3 separate regions of the Homo sapiens genome follow, and regions 1 and 3 are each linked to region 2. Evidence: fine-mapped expression QTL. A gene starts in region 2. Each other region holds a variant in brackets. All regions are shown on one strand. Distances are between the middles of the regions.

Region 1 (2,500 bases), 45 kb before region 2:
CTTCTCACTGGTCTTATATGAATCCGGCCACCCCCTCCACGCTTCCTATTCCTGCCTCCAGCCTCTAGCCAATCTTCGACCAAACAGGCCTTGACCCCTCCCCAACTCCTTCCTCCTATCAGGTCTGGACCCTACCCCCACCATTCTCACCTCAGTCTTCCACCAATCAGGCCTCAACCCCACCACCCTTCCCCCACACTCGCACCTCCAACCACCTCCAGCCACCTTCAACTGCTCCCAACCGGTTTTCCAAGCAGGCTTCCACTCCCCCACACTTCTATCCAACTTCTGCCCTACCCCACTCCTGTCTCCCACCACCACTCAGTCCTCAGCCAAAGAGACCTCAACCCCCACACACACACCCCTACCCACAACCACTAGCTCCCACCTCCCCCCAATGCTGCAACGGGCACCCCCACTTCTCCCCACAGCCACTGGCACCCCCACCTCCAATGCCACCACCAGCATCCTCACTTCTCCCCACGCCCACCAGCACCACCACGTGCTCCTAGGCCACTTCCACCACCACCAAGTGTTCCTACGCCGCCACCAGAACCCCCCACTTCCCTCAACGCCCCCATTGGCACCCCCACCTTCAATGCGGCCACCGGCGCCTCCACTTCTCCCCACACCGCCAGCGCTACTATGTGCTCCTATGCCACCAACGCCACCAAGTACTCCTAGGCCGCAACTGGCACCCCCACCTCCCCCCACGCTGCCACTGGCATCCCTACTTCTCCCCACCCGCCACTAGGGACACCACCTGTTCCTACACCACCACTGGGGCCCCCACCTCCCCCCAGTGCCGCAACCAGCGCCCTCACTTCTCCCCGCGCCGCCACCGGCGCCACGTATTCCTACATAGCCACTGGCGCCACCACACGCTCCTACGCCACCACCAGCGCTCCCACTTCCCCCAAGGCCGCCAATGGTGCCCCTACTTCTCCCCACACCGTCACTGGTGCTACCACATGCTCCTACACCACCACCAGCACCCCCACTTCCCCGACACTGCCACAGGCACCCCCACTTCCCCCAACGCCGCCACTGGTGCCCCTACTTCTCTCCACCCGCCACTGGCACCAACACCTCCTTCTACGCCACCACCAGGCCCC[C/G]CACTATCTGCAATGACGCCACCAGCGCCCCTTCTCCCCACGCCGCCACTGGCACTACCAGCTGCTCCTACGCCGCCACCGGCGCCCCCACCCCTCCCAATGCCGCCACTGGCGCCACCATATGTTTCCTACACCACCATGGGCGCCCCCACCTCCCCCAATGCTACCACTGGCGCCTCCACTTCTCCCCTCGCTGCCACTTCCTCTACTCCCACCTCAGGCCTACACGGGCAACCAGAGTCCAAGGTATACAGTGGTCCTGATTTTAATTAAGTCACTCAATTAGGATTAACCTCTGGACCACTTCAGCACCCATCTCAGTCCGACCAGCCGGTCACCTACCTGGTGTTGCAGCCTCTGGCGTGGCCGGCAGCAGCTCACCTCCAACTGCCCGTGGAGTGTGTGCAAAGATCCGGAGCAACTGCGATGAACAACGCCAGGCGCAGGCCCCTTTATAGTGCCCGGACCTAGGGGGCGGTAGCAGTAATTCACGTGTGCTCGCCCGCGCTCCCCTGTACCCACCTATCACAGTGGTCACAAGACAAATTTGAACTTCGCGCCTGTGAACTTGGCGCCTAGCTGTAACGCTTCCGGGATCAGGTCTGTCGCTTTCCACTCCCACGGATGTTGCTTATTTGTCCCAAAACCGCCATTTCAATACTAGAGCGTGGGCACCCGAGGCCAATTCTGCGATTAAAAGTCCCTAACAACTTTCTGATAAAGAGAAACCATGTGAAATCGTTCATAACAAACTTTTATCCTGCGAGAACTTGGATAAGCGAGCCTTGTTCCTTACTTGAATTGTCCAGACCTCTAAGTCCGTTATTGCAACCACTGGGAAAGGGCGCGGGGGGAGGGGCGGGGGCACGAGAACTGGAGCGAAGGCGCGGGAGCAGGGGCGTGGACGGGAACACCGAGGGGAGGGCGGGGCGCGGGGGGACGCGGGAGCGCAGGGGGGCGGGGGTTGCAGGGAAGGCCATCTAGACCCCTAGATAAGAGCAAGGCAGCAACTCAACAGCGCCTGGCAACGGCGAACTATGATGTTTACTTCCAGAACCCTCCAAACCCTGGAGATAAAAAAAGGTTACTTGAGGCTTTTTGGCACTCACTCCATACACACCAAGAAAAACAAACGGGGAAAACAGCGCTTTCTAGATTGTGCCAGTTTCTCCAGCGAGCATCTATATATTTCGTAATGTATGCCTTTGGGTAACAGAACACACATAAAATGTCCCTGCGTTTGATACTATTTTGTGCTAAGCATTATTCCAAGTGTCTTACGACTTAATTCATACAACACTTTAAAAAGTAGGCAACTGTTAGCACTCTCATTTTAGAGATCACACAGCTAGAAAGTGGCAGAGCTGGCCGGGCACAGTGGCTCA
Region 2 (2,705 bases):
TAATTATTAATCCCACTCCCTACAATTACGGATAAGACACTATTGACGATTCACCTACTACTTACAGCACAACTTCCAGGAACAGTAGCTAAAACCCTCCACACATCTCAACTGAGAAACAACCAAAAAATAACCTCGCGGGAAACCTCAGAAGCGCAGCCCAATTCCCCACCCCCTTCCGCCCAAATCGCCTCAATATGGAAAGGCAGCTGAAGGACACTCCTACAATTTGGTTGTTTTCGTATTTTCAGTACCAAATGCTCGCGACTGAAGTGTCTAAAAGGGCAACCGCCTTGTACTTGTGCAGCTACACTCCAGTTGCTTTACAAACTCTTCAAGCAGGGATGGAAACTTAAAAGAATATTACACCCTGTGAATAAAGAGATACTGGGCTGAAGAATGGGGATGGCAGACCCAGAGGCGGCGGCGGAGGAATACATCGAGAAAGTAACACAAAGCGAGAATTGGGCGGGCAGGGTGGTCAACGCCAAAGCAGCAGCATCGGGGTGGTTTCTCCCCCAAGGATAGGAAGTGAACAGGGCTGGCAACCTCGCGAAGGGAAGGGTGTGGTTCCCCGCGGACAGGGTGGGAAATCCAGGCTGAGGGCAGCGGTGGAATTGGGCGATGGCAAAGGAAACCCCTGGAAATTTCCAATCTAAACCGGGACCGCTCAACCGAAAGAACACCAGAAAGGCACTGCCTAGCAGGGTGCTGCTCAATGTCCCCTCTTCTCGAGGTGACTTGTGGCACCATCGACGAGCTTTTGATCGTCCTCGGGTGATGCAAAGTGAGGATATGATTACATCGGAACGGCACCCCCGCCCTAGATTGGCAGAGAAGGACCAAATCTGGCTAAGGGGAAAAGACTGGGGGGGGAGATGAAGGAGGAGATGGAGGGGAAAAAGGAGAGGCGATGAGCTGGAATTAGGGGAGAAAACCGCTGCAAAGGAGTGAAAGGGCAGGGATTCCAATGCAGTCCATTCCACGACATTCTAAGCGCGCACGTGTGATAAAAGCGCCTGGAGAGAGTGGAATGCTAGAACATTTACGAAATAAAAACAAAGCAAGAAAGGCAGCAAAAAGCAAGCAAGGGAGGAGGAGGAAATGTTCGGGAAGCGGACAACAGCGGAAAACCCGATGTGATCAGATGCCAGTAGACCACGAAAAGCTTAGCAATGTCACTGATGTAATGGGGATGGTTCGAGGGAAGGGAGGGAAGGAGTGATACAAGGTAGAGGACGGCGCGAGACCCCAAGGGGGCATCTGCCAAGGTAGAACGGGACACCGGTACCTGTGCTGTCGGCCACGTTGCCCACGGAAGACGCCATCTGGAGCTTCTCGAGGGAGAGCAAAAAAGAGGTAATTGGTCCTGCTGCCGCCACTACCAGCAAGAACGTATTTGGAGGTAGTAGTACAAGGGCAGCAGCCGTAGCAATGCTCTGGAGGGCTTGAGCGGCGGCAGCAGTTACAGGCTTCAAACCCTGGGAACTCTAATTGACCATCTACCTAGTACGGTCTTGAAATGGCGGCGACGGCTCCTCGGCCGAAACAACATGGGCCGGAACTACTTTCTGTTACAATCAAGTGCCCGCGCGGAGGTAGCCGGTAACCAGCGCCGCCAACAAAATGACTTCAAGCTGCAAAGTCGAGATTCCATGTAGTCCTCCGCGCAGCGCCCATTGCGACAAACACCACGGTGGAGACCGCGCATGCGAGCAGCCCTGTCAACCCGACTCGTGGTTAGGGCACTCTCTGGGGCGGAAGCGGCCAAGTTTCTTAAGAGTGTAGCGGAAGGGTAAAAACAAACACACACGGGACGGATACGTTTTTGCCACCGCGATTAAGAAGAGTGTTTGTTACTTAGCAGGTGGTGTCGTTTTAAACATAAATGCCAAAGGCGTCTAAAAAAGTTTATCAACTGTATTCGTACAAAAACGGATGGTTACGACTCTCACGGATCAATTCTGAGCCAGTCAATTCAGAAGATTGCCTCTCAAAGACAGCTGCTCAAAACGAGGAGCGAGAGGGTTCCGATTTGAGCCCGTCTTCATTGTGACTCGGCCATCGATTTCAGCACTTCGATGAAAAAGACTGAAGCTTTCACAGGGCCAGTTGAATGCAGACACCTTCAATGTTGGCCGTATAGCCTGAAATTTCAAAATCGTTTTGGTATTCAGAATACTCCTGCCCACGGTGATAGGGCAAATGTTTAATAACTCAGGGACATGCTGGGCGTTTGCACTCCGAAGGCAGCCATAAAAATGTTAAAGGTGATTCACGTTCGTCAAAATCCATGACTCTCCTCGAGTTGTGACTTCATTTCCACCAGCTAGCTCTGCACATTGTCACAGTCGGCGATTCCACTGAGCTCAAAGCAGATCAACAATGATAAATGAATTCACTTGCCATCTGCCTAAACCACACGTCTAGATTGAGTCATGAATTGCCTCTACTTCCTTGAACAAATCGGTTCTTACGATCTTCCTGCAGTTTCAAGTCTACTGTTCAGACATTTTGTCACATTGGTATTTATACTTCACCTCTTGTTCTAGAAACGACTTAAGGTAGCTTGCCACATCAGCAAGAAAGTATTACAAGCCACTGGAGGCTACAAGTTGGATCTCTGAGAGCCTTTTTATTTCAAAAAGTCCTTGATCTAAGAAAGCAGGTCAATGAATTTCTTCAAAAAGTTTTTGCTACCTAGC
Region 3 (2,705 bases), 20 kb before region 2:
TACTTTGCTTTCTAAAATCAGGTCAAAGGAATAATTTAGTCTAAGAAAGAATCATTTCAACCATTTTAACAATAAAAAAATTTCAACTAAACTCCCAATGAGAAGGATAACGGCTTTGAGGAAAGCCAACAACAAAAAGTCAGGCAACGAACAACATCTATAAATAAAAGGCAACACAGGACATGGGCAGAGAACAACGTGCTAGAAAAGGCAAATATGCTTCAATGGACTATTGTCATCATTTCGGTCCAAACTGTCAAGTGTCAATACAACAAAGATTCAAGAAAATTTATTAAACAGAACATTCTCTCACCTGTCAAAAATGCGTGCCTCTTTCAAGACATTTCCTAAATTGATATAAGCATCCAGAAAGTTTGGGTCAAGGGTGACAGCCTAAAAATTTCAAGACAGTTAGTTACTCAGAGCAAGTTAGGATTTCACCAGATCAACTTCCCAATTACAATTTTTTTACTCCAAGGTCCTTGCAGACTTTCAATTACATTTCATTTTAATAAACCAATTATTTATTTAGTGTCTTCTCATTATTTTTACAAACCTCAACATTATCAAAATAACTTCTCATGCCTCATGTTCTCATGAGCAAAATGGGTCCTGAAGAGAAAAATTAAATATTGGGCCTGCTCCAATTTCATTAAACTGAACACTTCTAATGATTGGCCCTATTTTATTCACAATTAACCAGTCTAACTCTTCTGAAAAATAGTGGCAAAAGAGGCAGCAAACTCTTACTGAAAAGGTAAATATATACCTCAGTTGTATGCATACAAACTACATGCTCAGCAAGACCTTATTAAGACATGCAATTAGAGCTGTATACACAGTAAGATACAATACTTCAAGGAAATACTAACCATTACACGGTGTCATCCAAATAGCTGTCATGTTGTCTAGAGCAGTGATTCTCAACCTTGGCAATATATTAAGAATTTACCTCCTAGAAAAGGTACC[G/T]AGGCTCTATCACAGGCCAGTTAAATCAGACCCTCTGAAGATAGGGTCAGGATATTCAGATCTTTTATAAGCTCCTCATGTATAACCAAGGAAGAGAAACACTGATCAAGAAAGATACTCCTACAGCATGGTAAATGCAAACTTCAATCAAAACACCGGCCAGGTGCAGTGGCTCACACATGTAATCCCAGTACTTTGGGAGGCCGAGGTCGGACCACTTGAGGTCAGGAGTTCAAGACCAGCCTGGCCAACATGGTGAAACCCCATCTCTACTAAAAATACAAAAATTACCTGGGCATGGTGATGTGCAACTGTAGTCCCAGCTACTCGAGAGGCTGAGGCATGAGAATGGCTTGAACCCGAGAGGCAGAGGTTACAGTGAGCCAAGATTGCGCCACTGCACTCCAGCCTGGGCAACAGAGCAAGACTGTGTCTCCAAAAACAAAAAACAAAAACAAAAAAAAACACACACACCGAAAAGGTATTTGATTAAGACACTGAGTAATTGTATGTTTATTAAAGACTGATAAAGAACACTTCATCTGCTGGGCGCGGTGGCTCATGCCTGTAATCCCAGCACTTTGGGAGGCCAAGGCGGGCAGATCACTTGAGGCCCGGAGTTCAAGACCACCCTGGCCAACATGGCGAAACCCCGTCTCTACTAAAAAATACAAAAAATTAGCCGGGCATGGTGGCTCACGCCTGTAATCCCAGCTACTCAGGAGGCCGAGGCAGGAGAATTGCTTGAACCTGGGAGGCGGAAGCTGCAGTGAGCTGAGATCGTGCCACTGCACTCCAGCCTGGGCGACAGAGCGAGACTCTGTCTCAAAAAAAAATAAAGAAAGAACACTTCATCTTCACTTAGATGACAACTCTGTAGTAAACACGGCATGATGCATTTAATTTAGATTGTCTATAGTGATAGATGTCCACCCCAAGAACTTTTAAACTTTATAATAGAAATGTTTAAACATATACAAAAGCAGAGGAACATTACGTCCAAGTCTCCATTATCCATTTTCAACAATTCATATATCATGTTTGATCTTATTTAATCTATACTCCAACTTACTCCCCCTCTTCGCAGATCATTTTGAAGCAAAGCCCAGACATATTCCATTCAAAAATACTTCAATATGTATCTCAGGGACAACACAAGAATGCTTTTTCCTCCCAACCTAACCACAATACCATTATCATACCTAACAGAAAAAAAAAAAAAAAAGACAGCAATTCCTTCATATTAAATATCAGCTGGGCGTGGTGGCTCATGCCTGTAATCCTAGCACTTTGAGAGGCCGAGGCAGGCAGACTGCCTGAGCTCAGGAGTTCAAGACCTGGGAACATGGCAAAGCCCTGTCTCCACTAAAAATACAAAAAGCTAGCCGGGCATGATGGCGCACGCCTGTAGTCCCACCTACTCCGGAGGCTGAGGCAAGTGAATCCCTTGAGCCTGGGAGGTGAAGGTTGCAGTGAGCCAAGATCACACCACTGCACTTCAGCCTGGGCGATCAAGTGAGACCCTGTCTCAAAAAAAAAAAAAAAAAAATCCATTCAGTGCTCCAATTTCTCATTAACTGAGTCAGGATCCAAATAAGACAGATATAATTTGTCAATGTGCCTCTCTGAGTTTCTTTTAATCCTTTAAAAGTTTGTGTGTTTATTTATTTATTTTTGGAGACGGAGTGTCACTCATTATTTATTTTTGGAGACGGAGTGTCACTCACTCTGTCGCC

Which allele goes with the higher level. Positions count from the first base shown, and alleles are read on the strand shown. Sizes are in standard deviations (SD) of each study's normalised expression.
As copies of C replace G in region 1, the expression in aorta of the gene that starts at base 1,524 in region 2 goes down (small effect, 0.20 SD a copy in GTEx).
As copies of T replace G in region 3, the expression in sun-exposed skin of the gene that starts at base 1,524 in region 2 goes up (small effect, 0.18 SD a copy in GTEx).

What was found. PIP is the estimated chance that this variant, and not a neighbour inherited with it, causes the effect.
Region 1: its variant is the best candidate, but not a certain one, in a credible set for the expression of OGT in aorta (GTEx, PIP 0.56).
Region 3: its variant is the best candidate, but not a certain one, in a credible set for the expression of OGT in sun-exposed skin (GTEx, PIP 0.70).

What each region holds. Positions count from the first base shown.
Region 1 is chrX:71,577,480-71,579,979 of GRCh38, reverse strand. GCNA (germ cell nuclear acidic peptidase) reads right to left here and starts at 1,543. Exons shown (of 13, transcript NM_052957.5): 1 at 1,458-1,543. RefSeq lists an enhancer at 695-1,336. The variant C/G (reference allele first, on the strand shown) is at 1,116.
Region 2 is chrX:71,531,923-71,534,627 of GRCh38, reverse strand. It overlaps OGT (O-linked N-acetylglucosamine (GlcNAc) transferase), which reads right to left and starts at 1,524. Exons shown (of 22, transcript NM_181672.3): 1 at 1,292-1,524. The coding sequence starts at 1,328. RefSeq lists enhancers at 950-1,608, 1,434-1,773, 1,274-2,473.
Region 3 is chrX:71,552,201-71,554,905 of GRCh38, reverse strand. It overlaps OGT (O-linked N-acetylglucosamine (GlcNAc) transferase), which reads right to left. Exons shown (of 22, transcript NM_181672.3): 6 at 314-393. Among named protein-coding and RNA genes, the nearest start is that of OGT, 20 kb to the right of the region's middle. The variant G/T (reference allele first, on the strand shown) is at 970.